3 linked regions of the Homo sapiens genome follow. The protein of the gene in region 2 interacts with the protein of the main gene of each other region in a pairwise test. Each region holds a gene or a part of one and is shown on either strand. Other genes may lie near its edges. The genes, in order: ELF5, FRZB and EHF.

Evidence for each region.
Region 1: the proteins of FRZB (region 2) and ELF5 interact in a two-hybrid assay, tested with the Homo sapiens proteins (one large-scale study listed by BioGRID and IntAct).
Region 3: the proteins of FRZB (region 2) and EHF interact in a two-hybrid assay, tested with the Homo sapiens proteins (one large-scale study listed by BioGRID and IntAct).

The regions. Positions count from the first base shown.
Region 1 is NC_000011.10:34,493,280-34,496,934, forward strand, and holds part of ELF5 (ETS-related transcription factor Elf-5), read right to left. Parts: intron 434-3,655; coding exon 200-433; intron 1-199. UniProt on the Homo sapiens protein: Transcriptionally activator that may play a role in regulating the later stages of keratinocytes terminal differentiation. Isoform 2 binds to DNA sequences containing the consensus nucleotide core sequence GGA[AT].
Region 2 is NC_000002.12:182,856,546-182,860,200, forward strand, and holds part of FRZB (secreted frizzled-related protein 3 precursor), read right to left. Parts: intron 2,289-3,655; coding exon 2,241-2,288; intron 859-2,240; exon of another isoform or gene 1-858. UniProt on the Homo sapiens protein: Soluble frizzled-related proteins (sFRPS) function as modulators of Wnt signaling through direct interaction with Wnts. They have a role in regulating cell growth and differentiation in specific cell types.
Region 3 is NC_000011.10:34,644,954-34,648,608, reverse strand, and holds part of EHF (ETS homologous factor), read right to left. Parts: intron 2,171-3,655; coding exon 1,925-2,170; intron 1-1,924. UniProt on the Homo sapiens protein: Transcriptional activator that may play a role in regulating epithelial cell differentiation and proliferation.

The sequences.
Region 1 (3,655 bases), on a different chromosome or scaffold from region 2:
CATTTTTGTAACTCGCTCCCTTTTCCCTAAAATCCCCAATTCTGGCATACTAGCTTCCAGTTATTGAAGGTTTGGATTAACGAGAACTCCAGTTAGTAAAATTTTGCTGTGCAATTCACACGATGGGAAAGGACTTCTCAAAGTTGTTTGGTCCTAATCCTGGTCCCTCCCCTGGAGGTCTGGCCCTCTGAACACTGACCTTGTGTGCGGATGTTCTGGAGGATGAAGTACAGGTACTCGCCGCAGAGGCCAGCTGCCTCGACGAACTCCTCCTGTGTCATGCTGCACAGCTGCAGGCCACTGATGTTGAAGTTGCAGAAGGAGATGCAATTGGTGTCCAACTTGTACTGGTCGCAGCAGAACTGGAGCCACTCCCACACATGGCGCTTAGTCCAGTATTCAGGGTGGACTGATGTCCAGTATGAGTCACAGGCTGCACCAAAGGAGAAAGAAGTGAGGGACAACAGTCCCAAGACAGCCTTCGAGAGGGCCCCTGAAGGATGCATCAGTTAAGTAACATCCTCATTCCTCAGCCAATAAGTTGAAAGGGCCTCCAGCCCTGGGTGTTCTGCAGAGCCCAGGTCACCTTCTATTCTGCAGAGAAAACCAGAGGGACTGGATCCTACAGATGAACTTTGGCATCATAGAGGGAATGACAGGGGCAAGAAAGAACCAGTCTTGGTGCTGATGCTCAAAAAAAAAGGCATTTAGTGGAGAAAGAAAGAAAACAGCCCTTCAGTTATTTGATTCCAGATAACATGATATCAAAAGCACAAACTCAGCTGTTTGACAAGCTGGGTTGAAATTCTGATTCTACCACTTTCCGCTTGGCAAGGTCTGTGGACATTGAAGTCTCAGTTTCCTCATCTGTAAAATGGGGATAATATGCTCAATGCCCAGGACTATTATGGAGTTTGGGGTTAATGTATGTAGAATGGCACACAGAAACTTACCAACCAATTCAATAGTTACTAAATGCCTACCGTGTGTCAGAAACCATTTGAAGCTGGTTTTGATTCCCTATGCTTTAAAGGGCAGCTGCCCAATGCTGGCTATTTGTTTCTGCACAGTTACTGGCAATCTTGTGCCAAGAACCTTGGGTTATTAGACATTGCCCAGAGTCTGACAGTCCTTGCGTCACCATAGTAGGCACCTCCAGAGGAAGGTGGTCATGGGAGAGTTGGTTGTATTGTTGTTCTTGTGTTTTTGGTGGTGTTCAGAGTAATTTCTATCCTGAGATCAGAGCCCCCACTCCTTTAGAGGAGTCGTGTACATGCCTAGACAGTTGTGAGTGCCATCTGTCTGGGAGGCTGGCATGTGGCTTTGCCTGGCCCAGGGGTAGAGATTTGGTGTTCAACAGTTCTGTCCTTCTGTTCTTAGGAGAAATGGAAAGTGGGGTGGACATAAGGTATGGAAGAGGTGCTGTATTAGGTACTTGGTCAGGCTCTTTGACATAAACAATTATTGTATCTGCCATGGAAAACATTCATTCATTTATTCATTTCATTCAATAAATAAAAGCTTTAGTTTCCTTACTGGTAAAATTGGAATAATTACAGCACCTGTATCATAGTGCTGTTCTGCAGATTAAATGACTTAATATACATAAAAGTACCTGGAACAGAGCCTGGAGGATTTAAATGCTATTACAAACATTATTATTGAATATCTACTATGTGTGCAGCCACACGTTGTATGTTAAGGATTCATGGTGGACAGGTTTGGTCCCCCGTCCCCCAGGAGATCACAGAAGAGGAACTTGAAAGTCATGAAGGACTTTCCCAAGAACCCACGCCAGCGTGTGGCAGAGCTGGATTTGAACCCTAGCCTGAACTTGAAAGCCATTGCTCTCCCCACACCACCATACCGGGTCAGCACAGAGCAGAGATGGAACGTGAAGAGTGGCTGAGGCACGGGGAAAGCTGGAGAGAACACAACACGAGGGCCTGAAAAGAAAGGCAGAGAGCAGAGAGTGGCTAAGGTGACGATGACAGAAAGGGTCCCTCACATGTTATACCCCACAGCAAATAGCAGTGGTGCGATTTGCAGCGTTTAAAGGTGAGTAGAACTCGCACCATTGTCAGTTGCTGATGATTCCAGGCAGGAGGTGGGTCCTCTGCCTGTCAGGTGCTACTACTCACTCAGCACCCTCAGCCAGCCGAGGCGCTACGCGTTCTTGTCGTCTCAAGTTTCTCAGGTCCCCTCAACAATCCTATCCAGTAGGTGTAATTGGGCTATTCCACAAAAAAGGAAATAGAGGCTCCCCTTAAAACTCAAAGGTCTTCCAGAGATCTCTTTTACCACCGAAGGGTGGGTGGAGGGGCAGTTGATTTATTTTATTTAAAAATTTTCAGAATTTTATATGCATTAAGATCAAAGCGTCAATATTGTGCCAGGGTGCTTGAGGCTGATGTCGTAGCCTCTACCTGGCAGATAGGAAGAGCCAGGGAGCCGGTGAGACCGATGACTCAGGTCTTGCTCACTGGCCACTGGCTGGAGCTGGCTTACCAGGCCCGTGGGGGCTCTTCAGGGCAGGCAGGGGTTCCTGGCAGAACAAGGGGCCATTCCTGAGTTCGGCCTGAGCTTTCATCTACTGATTTCTGGCTTTAGTAAACCTGAGGGGCCTTTTGGACTTTACTGGCGTCCTGTGAGAGATGTTTATGAGCCTTGACATTTTTCAGCTGCGGGCCCTGCCCTAGATGGCCATCGGTGTGCGGCCGTCGGAGGGCACAGTTGATTTCATGGAAAGGTTTCGCCAAGGCTCTGTTCCCGTTTCCCTCCCCTCCCCTCTCTGCTTCCACCCCCTTGTTATTTTCTTTGGCACTTGAAGAGGGCCATATTGTTTGCGGAAGCCAAGGGGGCCTCAAGGATTCGGAGAAACGCCCAGGCGGGGAGTCGGCCCCACACCGGGGAGGTGTTGCTGGCGCTGGCTCCCTGCTCCTCGGCGCTCTGCTTTGAAGCTCACCCACAGAGCGGCTTTGTGTGCGGCCTCGGCCCCTGGAGGGGAGCCAGAGCCCTGCGGAGGCTCCCTCTCCTCATCCGCAAGCTCCTTCCAAAGCCCCAGAACTGGGAGGAAAATGGCTGCTCTGGGTGCCATGGCAGGCCTCTTTTCCGGGGGTCCCATCCTCAGGACGGGAGGAGAGTGGCAGAGCGGAGGCTGCCCAGACGAGGGACGCCGCTGTCAGCCCCTCCTCACCAGCCCCTCTCCTGCTCTTCTCTTTCAGGAGGCTCCACGGCCCAGAGTCTTCCCACAGCGACTTCTCTTTGGATGGAACGTGGTCCCCATCTGCCTTCTCCTGAGGAATCTCTGCTCATCCTCACTCCCCCTCGCAGAGGTCTCTTCCTCCTCACTGAGTGCCCATCAGGCGTCCTCCTCATCCCTCCCCTCCAGACCTAGAGCTTTTGCTCGCCCTGAACCAGGAGTGCTTGGAGCCTGGCCTAGCCCACCACAGGCCTACCTCAGTGAGTGTGACTGACTGACCAGGTGACTGACAGTCACTCTCTCCACTTTACACGTGAGGAGATTGCCGTTCCGGGGACTGACGGGACCCCTGTAAGGTCACGCGGCCTGTCAGTAAAGGAGCTACTGAAGAGGGAAAAGTGGCATTTTCCCTCTTACCACGCCCCACTCTTCTTGGTTGAGGAGGACCAAGTT
Region 2 (3,655 bases):
TAAAAAGACCCAACTATATGATGTCTACAAGAAATGTATTTAAAACACAATGACTTAAGTATGTTAAAAGTAGGATAGAAAAAGTTTTGCCCTGCAAACACTAATCAAATGACAGCTGAATTACCTATAGCAATATCAGAAAAAATATAATTTAGAGCAGAGAAAATTACCAAGGATAAAAGGACACTACATAATGAAAACATCAATTCACCAATAAGACATAAAAAATATTAAACAAGTATGTACCAAACAGAGCTTCAAAATACATGAAGCAAAACTGACAGACTGAAAAAAGAAATAGAAAAATCCACAATATTTGGAGACCTAATCACCCTTCTCTCGGTAATCAATAGATCTAGTAGACAGAAAATCAGCAAGAATATAAAAGAACTAAATAACAGTATTAATCAACTAAATTGAATTGACATTTAAAGGACATTCCACCCAACAGCAAAATACTCTTTTTTCTAAGTGTACATGGAACATTCACCAAGACAGATTATATCCTGGATCAGAGAATAAACCTTAATAAATCTAAAAGAACTGAAATCACACAAAGTATATTCTTCAACAGTAGAATTTGAAAAATAGCAAAGATAATAGGAAAATCCTCAAAAAGCAGCAAATTAAACAGCATAATCCCAAATGATGCACAAGTCAAAGGAAATATCAAGGAAAAATATAAAATATTTTGAACTGAAGAAAAATGAAACTATCAAAATTTGTGAGATGCAACTAAAGTCATTCTTAGATGGGTATTTATAGCATTACATTATATTAGAAGAAAGGTCTTGGCCGGACATGGTGGCTCACGTGTGTAATCCCAGCACTCTGTAAGGCCAAGGTGGGTGGATCACCTGAGATCAAGTGTTAGAGACCAGCTGGCCAACATGGTGAAATCTTGTCTCTACTAATAATACAAAAATTAGCTGGGTGTGGTGGTGCACACCTGTAATCCTAGCTAGTTGGGAGGCTGAGGCAGAATTGCTTGAACCCAGGAAGTGGAGGTTGTGGTGAGCTGAGATTGCATCACGGCACTCCAGCCTGGGCAACAGAGCAAGACTCCATCTCAAAAAAAAAAAAAAAGTCTCAAAACACAATATAAGCTTCTACTCTAAGAAACAAAAGAAAAAGCAAAATAAACCTCTAAAGCAAGCAAGCAGAAGGAAATAATCAATAAAATTGAAAACAGTGAAACAATAGAGAAAATGAATAAAACCAAAAGATGTTTTTTGTATCCAGAATATGTAAAGAACCCTCAGAACTCATTAAGAAAACAACCCAACTTAAAATGGGCAAAATTATTGAACATTTTACCAAAAAGCATATATGTGGATAGCAAATAAACACATGAAAATGTATTCAGCATCATTAGCCATTAGGGAAATGCAATTTAAAACCATGATGAGCTATTATCACATACCTATTAAAATGGCTAACAATAAAATATATTGATAATACCAAGGGCTCGCAAAGATATAGAACAACTGGAACTCTTATACATTACTAGCACAAAATTGAACAGCCATCTTGGAAACAGTTTGGCACTTTTTTACAAAGCTAAACATATACTTACCATATAACCCAGTGATCCTATTCCTACTTATTTAGCCTAGAGAAATAAAAACTTACATTCCCACAAAAACCTGTACTGGAATGTTTATAGTAGCTCTATTCGCGATTGCTCCAAACTGGAGACAACCCAAACTTCCTTGAAGGAGTGAATGGGTGAACAAATGGTCATACATCCAAGTAATAAAATATTCTGTAATAAAAAGGAATGCACCATTGATATATGCAGCAATTGGTTAAGTCTCAAAGGCGTACTGTCAGTCTGTCTATATGGACAATCGAACCTCAAATAGAGAAAACTATAGTGATAAAGAAAAGATGAGTGATTGCCAGTGGATGAAGATAGGGAAAACTTGTAATTATAAAGGGATACAGCTTGAAGGAGTTTTGGGAGGTGATGGAATTGTTCTGTATCCTGATGTGGTGGTGGTTACATAAATCTCTACATAATATTAAAATTCATCTGTACCAAACTATATGTCCAAATAAAAGTCCAATTTTACTACGTGCTAATTTTAAAAATAAAATTAATATAAATGAGGGAATTTTAAAAAGTTTACTTGTAAAATGTAGGGCACAAGCTTCCCCATGAATGACTTAAGTATCTAAATTACATCAATGACTAATCTGACCACAAATGAAAACCAGGAAGATAATGATATACTCACCACTGCTTGCCCCTCTACAGTTTCCGTTACTAGAATCCATAGGAAAATCTGAAAGGAGGTGACAGAAAAAAGAACTATAACATATCTATTTCAAGAATTCCTAAAGATAAAAATCTAACTCAGTCACAAGTTTGATTTGGGTAAGAATCCAATTGTCTGAAGGAAGTAGATTTTTATTAACGTCATGAGGTCGGCATTCTTATCATTCATGGGTTGAGTATGGATGAGACTTATTTTTTCATGTGGTTATAAGGAAATACTCTTCTGAATACTCAACTGTGCATAAAATTTTAGAATTTAATAATTTATTTGAATTTCACAAAATTTGTAAATGATAAGCATCCTATCATGATAAAGCCTATGCAAATATTAGGCACTCATCCAACACTTATGACTTGATGACAAAAAAAAAACCAAACGCATCTTCAATAAATGGACATATCACACTGAACTGGTATATATTTAAATCCTTAGTTCCTAAACGAACACTCAGAAATCATTCTCATGTCCTTTAACTGCAGGCTAAATAATTCTTCAACAGAAAAGAAACCTACTATTCAGGGACTATTCAAGCCAGTGCAATTAATAGATGTGACAATAATTAGAAATTGCTATTGATTCTTTTTAGGATGCCATAATCCCAGAAAATAGTAATGATAAAGGTTTTCTGTGTTCTAATTAAGAAAGCAGCCTCTAATGAATAACAGTGCACCAGCGGAACACCGTGCTGAGAGATGCTGTACCTAGCAATATATCCTTATTGACACTCCAATTTAGTACTTTATATAAGAGTTTTACATTTGTAGTAACACTTTATGCTAAACTAATTTAATGCCTCTATTTATTCTAGGAGAAAATAGTATTCTTCCTTTGTCCTTTTTGTTTATAGGTCCTATCAGGAATAAATTAAACAAGGGGTTAATACTATTTTAGGACTATAACACCCACAATTACAATTAATGAATTACTTTCCCAGGTTTAGTAATCATCAGCAAGTATTTAAAAAGCAATATCCAAGAAAAGACAGCAGTCAGCAAACAAACAGATAAGCAAGTAACAAACACTAATTCTAAAACATTTGGCTCAACTTGGGCATAAACTATTAATTACTAATACTTTCATTATATTCAAACATTTATTCATGATAAATGTACCCAAGTATTACAGTAACGTGCCAGTGGTTTTTCTATTTCTGAATAATCATGTGATAAACTACATACAAAAATAATGTCTTCATAAAGGAAGAAATTATATTGGCCCATATTTGAAATGTTTATTGTTCAAAGGTAGAAATAAGAGTGAAAAATAAAACTTTGCTTGGTGAAAGGGAATCACTTCAAAATAGCTAAGCCAAGGAGAGTGTTTTACTTCTTCCATTCTTATTCAAAGGAAAATGTTTCTACGCTTTTACAAAT
Region 3 (3,655 bases), on a different chromosome or scaffold from region 2:
AGATATGATATGAAAATGAAAATGTAGGGAAAAACCTTTTTAACTAGCTTGATTCTTCTTTGATTTAAAATCTAATCAATGCCATCATGATTACATCCAATCTGTGAGATATGTCTGGATAAAATGTGGTGACTCTTTCCTTATTTATGCCTCAGCACATGTACAAGCAGTACACATCACATGACCTTGTTTGCTTGCAACTCCTCTCCCATTATCATATATAAAAGCATATATATGTATGCTTATATATATATATATATATTTGTAAATGCATATGAATCTAGTCTGTTTTCTTCCCCAGACAGATTCTAAACATCTCAAGAACAGAAGCCATGCCTTTAACCTCTCTGACATTCAGTCTTCCCACCTGTAAAATGGGCACAATATTTACTTTGTCATAAAGTTATTAAATGAATTAATTCACTTACAGTGCCTAGTATAAGTAAATACTCAATAAATGTTAGTTGATAGAAGGTCTACACAAAGGCAAACAACAAAAGAGTGAGCAATCTGCCTGGACATTAGGAACTCAGAGGCTACAGCAGCATGCGATGAGACCAAACAAGTCATGGGAAGTCAGAGACAGAAGGTCTAAGATGGCCACAGCACCTCCCAGGCCTCCCTGCCTCAGACCTCAATCAGGGCAAAGCTTTAAAGGAGTGGATTTAATTGGGGGGTGGAGGTAAATATTTTTAATTCTTCAAGTGTAAGTCTGATCTTTTTGAAGATCCCTGAGGGTTATTTATAGAGCCTTGTTTGGTTTGATTCTAGTCAAAGAAAAAAGAGCAGCCACCAATGTGAGGTGGGTGGGAAGCAGGGCATGGCCAGGGAGCTGAATGACATCATCTAAAATGGCCACCGCAGCCACAAGCTCTGCTGCAAGGCCCCAGGTCCTCTTCAGTGTTGATGGCTGTTGCCAGGGTATGACTCTGGTTCACAGCCCTGGAGCTCATGCCGCCCAAGTCCCGGTTACTTGCCCAAACATGGGTTCTACCAAGACATAAATGCCTTTTCCAGTGCAGACAGGCCAACTCCCTGTTCTTAAATATTGCTACTTTTCAGGATGCCCATAGTTCTCAGAAGAGCTAGATTTTTACAGCCACTATCAGGGGAACCTTATGCCAGTGTCAAAACCATTCTGCAAGGTCAGTTGTCCACCCTACTAGGTCTTACATGTCAGTATAGGATATGTTCGTGTATGAATAATCTACCACTCAAAGACAACATCTGGAATGGTGGCCCATCCCTGTGCTAGGGGAAGCCTCAGAGAGACATCTGGGGCATTAGGGCAACAGAAATTCCAGAAACCACCACAGAAACATTCCCCATACACGTGTCTAGACCATATGTTCTAACCCTTTTTTTAAGTTACAGACCTTTTAAGAATCTGCTGAAGTATTGTGAGTTTTTTCCCCTCCCAAAACACAAACATAGTTCTAATTTCATATATCTTCTTACCACCCTTAGGACCCTATCTTAAGAACCTAGGTCTAGAAGGTTCTTTGTGTGTGTGTGTGGGGGGGGTTTTGTTTTGTTTTGTTTTTTGTTTTTTGTTTTTTTTTTTGTAACCATGATGATCTTTTTAACAAGCAAGTGACTGGACTGTTTGCAAAGGAAAGAAAACATTTTCCAAGGATAGTAAGTATTCTACGAATTCCTAGCCAGCTTTTGTCTTCTTGAAAATTATCACCATAAGGAAAGAATTAAATTACACTGGCATTTATAAGGGATTAGGCACACCAGGTACCCTATGCTTCAATCCTGTCCTTTCATCTTCCTTCCATTTCTCTGTCTTGGGACATGGTAATTTGGAGGTGAGACCACTCTTTCTTGTCCCTGACAAAGAATCCTGTCATCTGCAGAATCTCTATTCTTCCAGCTGGCTCCTAGCAGGGTAGGGAGAGACACAGAAAGAGAGAGTCACCGTTCCACTTCAGATGCTGCAAGTTGCTGTAGAGGAGCTGCCCCGCCGTCCCTGCCGCCCGGGTGAACTCCTGCAAACTCATGCTGCAGAGGTGCTCGCCGTTGATGTCGAACTCTTGGAAAGGGATACAATTGGCATCCAGCTGGTTGGTGTCCAGGAGGTGCTGGAGCCACTCCCACACCTGGTACTTGGTCCAGTACTGAGGATGAATTTCATGCCACTGGCCTCCAAAAAACCCACTGGAAACTGCAAAACAGGAAGCAGCCTCATGAGTGACCCCTGGCTGTTCCTGGCCATAGTATCTGACACAGGGATGTACTGTTGGCTGCCAGATATCTCAGAGACACAACCACAGTCCGTGTATGTGCCAGCATGGGTGATGGAGCAGAAGTGCATTTTCATGTCCTCCCTAGCCTGCTACCTACCCCTGGACACTGGATGAGGACAAGAGAGCTGAAGTGCTCAGAGCTCATCCCCCACCTCCCCCAAAGTAAAATATCATGAAAGCTAGAGCATTGCTATCATTTCAGCAATTTATTAGCTTATTGTCCATACCCAAATCGTTCTCTTCCTCTTCTCTCTCACTCACTCTCTCTCATTTTTTCTCTCTTATACATACACACACACACACACACACACACACACACACACACACACCACCAAACTCAGACCATTTTCAACTAAAAATAAGGCCTGAAATTAAGGTTCTTTTCTCTACGATGCCTTTGCTTTTCCTCAAAGTGGTCCAGATTATTGATCTACTAACTGGACTGATATCCCACTGCCCCAGCCTAGTCATTATAGCTATCATGATGTCACTTCCCTACTCAGTTACCTTTAGTAGTCCTCATCACCCACTGAAATTAGGTATAAAGCTGCCTAGCTAGGCATTGAGGCTCTTCACTAACTCTTCTTCAAGTAACCAATAACTTGTCTTTTCTCTATGCTGTTCTTTCAGCTAAGCTTGTGTTCTACCTCTCACTCCTGTTGAATTCCTACCCATCTTTCGAACTCTGACCATCCTGTAAAATCATTCCCAATCCCCCCAACTTGCTTCAAGGGCTCACTGTCCTCTTACCCTCCAGGAGACATGCTTGGTATTTCTAATGGCTTTGTCATGTTCTGCTTTTCTGTACAGGTCTCTAAGTGCCGTCTTATTCTCCTTTGTAAATTGTATGCTTGAGGTCACAGACTGTTTTACTTGTCTTTGTATCACCTAAAAAATGACCTCAGAGACTTTGTCATAGTAGATGCTCACCATATATTTATTTAATGGAATGTATTTTTGAAGAAGAAATAAGGTAGGCATCTGAGGAGTTGGGAGGTACGTTTAAAAGATGGTACATTCACAAGATGGTACATTCAGATGCCAATGAAGAAGTGCAGTTCATTAAACTGGATAAATATTGCTGAACCTAATATGTGCTAACCATCTGTATATGTGACTCATGCTCACTTAAAAAAACATTCCATAGTCTGCCCGAAGTTCTGCGGCAATGGAAAAGACAAACCAGCATCTGAGGGCATGTAACAGGGCTGAGAGAGCTTACAGTTCCCTTGGAAATAGATGTTGGGAAGGAACTCTCTTTCAGGAAAGATGAGTGAAAGGGGCAAGGGGCAAAGACTATTGCATCCCACCAAGCTGAAGCAGGGGAAATCCAACAGAACGTGACACATGGATATTCCAACAAATTCAAGGGTGGACCAGTAGAAGAAAATGTAGTGCAAGAA